Regions from separate parts of the Homo sapiens genome. Here region 2 is linked to region 1. Evidence: fine-mapped expression QTL. A gene starts in region 1. The other region holds a variant in brackets. All regions are shown on one strand. Distances are from middle to middle. Region 1 holds the start of CD48 (CD48 molecule). Region 2 overlaps CD48 (CD48 molecule).

Region 1 (2,916 bases):
TCAATGTGTGATGATCAAATCAAAGCAATTAGGATACCTATCACCTCAAACATTGATCATTTCTTTGTGTTGGGAACATTCCAAATCCTCTCTTCTAGCTTTTTGAACATATACATTAAATTATTCTTAACTGTATTCACTCCATAGTGCTACAGGATGCTGGAACTTATTCCTCTTCTCTAGCTGTAACTTTGTATCTATTAACCAACTTCTTCCCATCCTCCACTTCCCTCTACCCTTCCCAGCCTCTGATAACCACAATTTTACTCTCTACTTCTATGAGCTCATTTTTTAAGCTTCCATATATGATTGGGAACGTGGTTTTTTATCTTTCTGTGCATGACTTATTTCACTTAACATAATGTCCTTCAGGTTTGAGGACTGAGAAGAGCAGACATTTTATTGTTCATCTCCATGTTGAGAATCAGAAATGTCCCCAATTAAAAAGTGATTACAAATATGTTATATCAGGAACTGTGGCTTGCCTGTGGGTCCTGGGTGGGCAAATAACTAATTTACATTCAATAGGAATGAGCTTGAAATTTCCTAGACATGATATGATTTGGCTGTGTTCCCTTCCAAATCTCATCTTGAATTGTAGTTCCCATAATCCCCACATATCATGGGAGCAACCCAGTAGGAAGTAAGTTAATCATACGAGCAGTTACCATCATGCTGTTCTCGTGATAGTGAGTTCTCACTAGATCTGATGGTTTCATAAGGAAGGGGCTTTCCCCATTGCTGCTCAGTGCTTCTCTTTCCTGCCACCGTGTGAAGAAGGACGTATTGGCTTCCCCTTGCACCATGATTGTAGGTTTCCTGAGGCTTCCCAAGCCATGCTGAACTAGAAGTCAATTTAACCACTTTCCTGGCCAGGCACAGGCCCATGCCTATAATCCCAGCACTTTGGGAGGCTGAGGCAGGTGGATCACTTGAGGTCAGGAGTTCAAGACCAGCCGGGCCAACATGGTGAAACCCTACTAAAAATACAAAAATTAGCTGGGCATGGTGGTGCTTGCCTGTAATCCCAGCTATGTAGGAGGCTGAGGCAGGAGAGTTGCTTGAACCTGTCAGGTGGAGGTTGCAGTGAGCTGAGATTGCACTGCTGCACTCCAGTCTGGGCTACAGAGTGAGACTGCATCTCAAAAAAAAAAAAAACCAAAACAAACAAAACAAAACAAAACCCCTCTCTTTCCTTTATAAATTACCCAGTCTGGGGTATGTCTTTATTAGCAGTGTGAGAACAGACTAATACAGACTACAAGGGTGGGAAATCCATTCTTTTGGGCCAAGTAATCTTACTTTTTTTCTGATGTTCAGTGGATAGGCTGATGTCAAACTTCAAATAGTGAATTATCATAAAGGAAGAAGAGCAGAGGGTGGTGCTGGGGGTAAGATATGCAGCACAAAGGCTACGTGGGTCTGATTTCCCAGACTTCAGGCTCTGAATGACACCTACCCAGGCTTGACTGGGAAGCTCCTATGTCTTAGCCCCTGAATTAATCAGAGGGATTCCTGCCTGGGAACGAAAAGCAGACATTCTCTATCAGGGTCCCTTATTCTTTTCTGAGTACTGGCCCCCCTGAGAGTACAGTAGAAGCTATGAATCTTCCCCCTACAAAAAAGCACTCATGTACCTTCAAACAAAATTGTTCTCAGTTTCCGTGATGCTCTTAGATAAAAAAATTTACAAGACCTCCGGTTTCTGGTTTCTGGGGCCCCACACAAGTGTGCTGGGTGGAGAGAAAATCTCAGTGGTTTTTTTTTTTTTCTCTCTAACCCTGTTTGGTAAGTTCCGTTTTTAGCCCCGGCCTTTTTCTAGCCAGGCTCTCAACTGTCTCCTGCGTTGCTGGGAAGTTCTGGAAGGAAGCATGTGCTCCAGAGGTTGGGATTCGTGTCTGGCTCTGGAATTGCTACTGCTGCCTCTGTCACTCCTGGTGACCAGCATTCAAGGTACTTTCCACCAACTGTGTATCTGTGATTGTGCACTGAAGGCATGGTCAGTTGGGAAAGGGGAGACGGGATGTAGTTCAACCCTAGAAGCCAGATCTGGTGTCTGGAAAGCAGGTATTTCCATTCCAATAGCATGGCCATGGCATGGTTGGGGAGCCTTTCTTAGCACTGATGAATGGAGCTTCATCTCCTTTCCCACGGGGATGTGATCAAAACAGGAACCTGGGGAGCAAGAGAAGTAGGCTCCTCATATTTTGTCCCGTGGTTGGTGGTCCATGAAGTTGTGGAAAAGTGTTTGTTTTTTCATTTTGAATAAGAAGAAGCTCTACACTGACAGCTGCTGCATTTTATGCTCAGACACACTGTACTCCCTTAGGCATTCTTTGAGACCTCTGTATATGTGAGGTGTTGCATCCTGAGCCAAGGTAAATGATATTGTCATTGACCCAAAGAAAAGATAGATCAAAATTATAGGAAGAAAAGCTTGGAAAGGATTGCTGTCTGGGGTCTCTGAATGAGGGTCTGAGAAGAGGCTGGAAGTGCTTCAGCATCAAAGGAACCTTAACACATCTGATTGCTAAGAGTTAAGGTCCATTCCTCTGCCACAGCCTGTTCGGTCCCCGGTGTGTGACCAAGGGCTGAGCTAACTTTCCTTCTCCTGTTAGAGCTGCCTCACCCTCTTTCTTCATCCAGTACCTCTCTTCTTATGCCAGCTGAGAAACAGCAGTGAAACCTTTGACTTTCTTGCTATTCCCCCAAGTAAATACTCAAGTCTTTTTAATTTAAAGGGCTTTAATGCTCACCACTCTGAGTAAAACAGTAAAAATCAACAAACATGTGGTAGTCACACTGTGGCATAAAATGATGATAGTTTGTAACTTTTGGGGAGATGAGGTAGAATGTGTGGAGGATCGGTCTCTCACATATTCTACCTCTCAGGTAGAGTCCTTTGGTTCATGACTG
Region 2 (2,916 bases), 33 kb after region 1:
AAGCGGGAGCTAAATGAGACGCAGTCTCTTAGAGTTTTGGGGACCCTTAATAAACTTGGATCAATATCTCCAGCACTCTGGGAAATACCAGAGTCAGATACCCTCCACAATCCTGAAGTCAGATCCCTGAGCCCTAGCGTACACATTCTTCTAGAATAACTCAGACCTGAGGTGCTCACATTCACCTGTGACCCCTGTCATGCCCAGTCATCAGGGATTCTGGCCTCTGAGAACGTTGCTGTTTTGTGGTCTTCCTGGGCTCTGTCTACCCTCCTTAACTGCACTGATTTCTTTATCTCTACTCCCACATGTGGACTACGGAGACTGTGTATGCTCTTCCTTATTCTTCCTAACTAATTGGCCCTGTCTCTACCAGCCTCTCCTGATATGCCTTGCTCTTCTGCCACCACAGACCCACTGTGACAGTGTGGTATCTGACCATGAGAACACAATTTGGCTGGTGGTTCCAACACCACCCTCATATCAATATCACATCCTGAGATCCAGAAAAAGGAAGACGCACATTCCCTGTCCTCTATAAAATGGGTGTGACTGTTCATCCGAAGAGAGGATAAAAGCAATAATAAATCCATTTTTTTTGGAAGGGTAAACCCATCTGTCACTTTTTAGTCACCGAAATTATCCTAGAAAGCCCCCTCAAACTCCTTTCCCTACTGTATCACTCATTCCTTTTTTTTATTTTCTCCAGCTCAGCCCTTCCCCACCCCAGCATCTAAGCTTTCCTTCCATCCTTTTTCTTTTCCTTTCCTTTTCTGTCTTCCTTTCTCTTCCCTTCTTCTTCCTAGTTGGTGCAGATACTTAGTGGGGTAGAGAAACAAGGAAAGGAAGTGGTCCTTTTCTCTCTAAAGTCAGCTGTGCATTGTATCATGTGGTCATCTGTCTGTACCTGAAGATCTACCCTACCTCGTTGATGTCCAGAGTAGGGGAGCAATGCTTTCCCAGGCCACAGATATGTCGAGGTAACCTTTGAGCACAGGGCCCAGGTAAGCCAGTGATATTTAAGGAATTTCTGCATTTTTTATACTTTATGTTTGGGGAGATTGAGGAAAAGAATGTCCCAGCCAAATAGGATGGGATTCAGGGAAGAAATTAATTTCCCTGCTCTGTGAGCTCCCACACCAGTGTCCAGTACACTTGCCCCTTCTCAATACATTAGTCAAGATAAAGATACCTAAGCATATAGGGTTTTCTTGCTCTTTCAGCCCGGTCCTTTGGAGTAGAATGGATTGCAAGTTGGCTAGTGGTCACGGTGCCCACCATTCTTGGCCTGTTACTTACCTGAGATGAGCTCTTTTAACTCAAGCGAAACTTCAAGGCCAGAAGATCTTGCCTGTTGGTGATCATGCTCCTCACCAGGACAGAGACTGTATAGGCTGACCAGAAGCATGCTGCTGAATTATCAACGAGGATTTTCAAGTTAACTTTTAAATACTGGTTATTATTTAATTTTATATCCCTTTGTTGTTTTCTAGTACACAGAGATATAGAGATACACATGCTTTTTTCCCACCCAAAATTGTGACAACATTATGTGAATGTTTTATTATTTTTTAAAATAAACATTTGATATAATT[G/A]TCAATTAACTGAATTCCTGAAGTTGTCCCAAATCTGTCAGACAGTGCCTGCTCCATCAGCTGGGAGAAACTGGAATCTGGAGACACAGAGGGGAGAGCCTGGAGCCACCGGCTCCTGTGTGTCAACACAGCTGAGGAGCCAATTTGTGCTACTTCTGACCCTTATTCCAACATCCATGCTAAGCTTCCTGGGGCTCCAGCTCCCCTGCCAAGCCTTTGCCTCCTTCCCAGTGGCTTGCCTTGCTCTGACCCCTCTGAGGACCACTCTCCTTAAGTCTGCTGCAAACATAGGTTCAGGCTTGCTCTCGCAGAAGGAAGGATGCAGCTCTATCTCATAAGAAGCCTTCCTGCCCCACAAGCCTCGCATAGGGAGCTGAATTCTCTCTCCTCTTTTCCATTGACTGTGTGGGCAAGTCTTCAACTCCTAGTCGTTTCACTGGATCCAAAAAAACCATCAGATCGACACAGTGTTCTCACCAGAGTTGTCCACTATATGCAGGTAGGCGCCCCCAGGCCCACCACTGACATAACACCTGGGATTTTTGCTTAATGTCCCCTCCTCTAAGTCTCCTCATGTGCCTGGAGCTGAAAGGGTCACTACAGAATGCACTTCCCCTTCAGAAAACTGCCCACCACAGACTGCTTGCCTTTCAAACCAGACCAGCCTCCCCCATCTCCCTCGTGGCCCTTCCCTCCTCACCCCATCTCCTCGGTGACAGATACAGTGCTATGTGTTTGCCAAACCTTCTCATTTTCCCCTGGGTGAGTGAAAAAACTCTTTTTCCCAGCTACTTTTGTGTTTAGCTGGAGCCATGTGATGAAATCTGTCCAATAGAAAGTGGGCGGCATGGATGTGGCAGGAGTGAAGGACTTCGGAAGTCTGGCTATATGATGCAAGGAACTGCATCGGAGCCATTGTTTGGAAGGCAGCTGCCTGCCCTACATTGCACAAGCATGATAAGAAAGGTAGGGTTTTGTCTTTTCCACAAGACAGCCTGGGCTTCCGAAGAAACCCCCCACCCTGAGCCCAGCCTGTAGTCCCATCCAAAATCACCTCTGAGCAGCCTGCATCCCCATCCAAACTCACTTCTGAGCAGTCTGCATCCCATCCGAACTCACCCCTGAGCAGCCTGCATCCCTATCCAAACTCACCTCTGAGCAGCCTGCATCCCCATCTGAACTCACCTCTGAGCAGCCTGCATCCCCATCTGAACTCACCCCTAAGCAGCCTGCATCCCCATCCGAACTCACCTCTGAGCAGCCTGCATCCCCATCTGAACTCACCCCTAAGCAGCCTGCATCCCCATCCAAACTCACCCCC

The links.
Region 2: its variant is fine-mapped to the expression of CD48 in whole blood (TOPMed, PIP above 0.99). The same link has a PIP of 0.9 or more in blood mononuclear cells and monocytes.

What each region holds. Positions count from the first base shown.
Region 1 is chr1:160,710,719-160,713,634 of GRCh38, reverse strand. It overlaps CD48 (CD48 molecule), which reads left to right and starts at 1,813. Exons shown (of 4, transcript NM_001778.4): 1 at 1,813-1,953. The coding sequence starts at 1,872. RefSeq lists enhancers at 785-844, 1,385-1,564.
Region 2 is chr1:160,677,439-160,680,354 of GRCh38, reverse strand. CD48 (CD48 molecule) reads left to right here. Exons shown (of 4, transcript NM_001778.4): 4 at 1,224-1,609. The coding sequence ends at 1,303. Among named protein-coding and RNA genes, the nearest start is that of SLAMF1, 32 kb to the right of the region's middle. The variant G/A (reference allele first, on the strand shown) is at 1,596.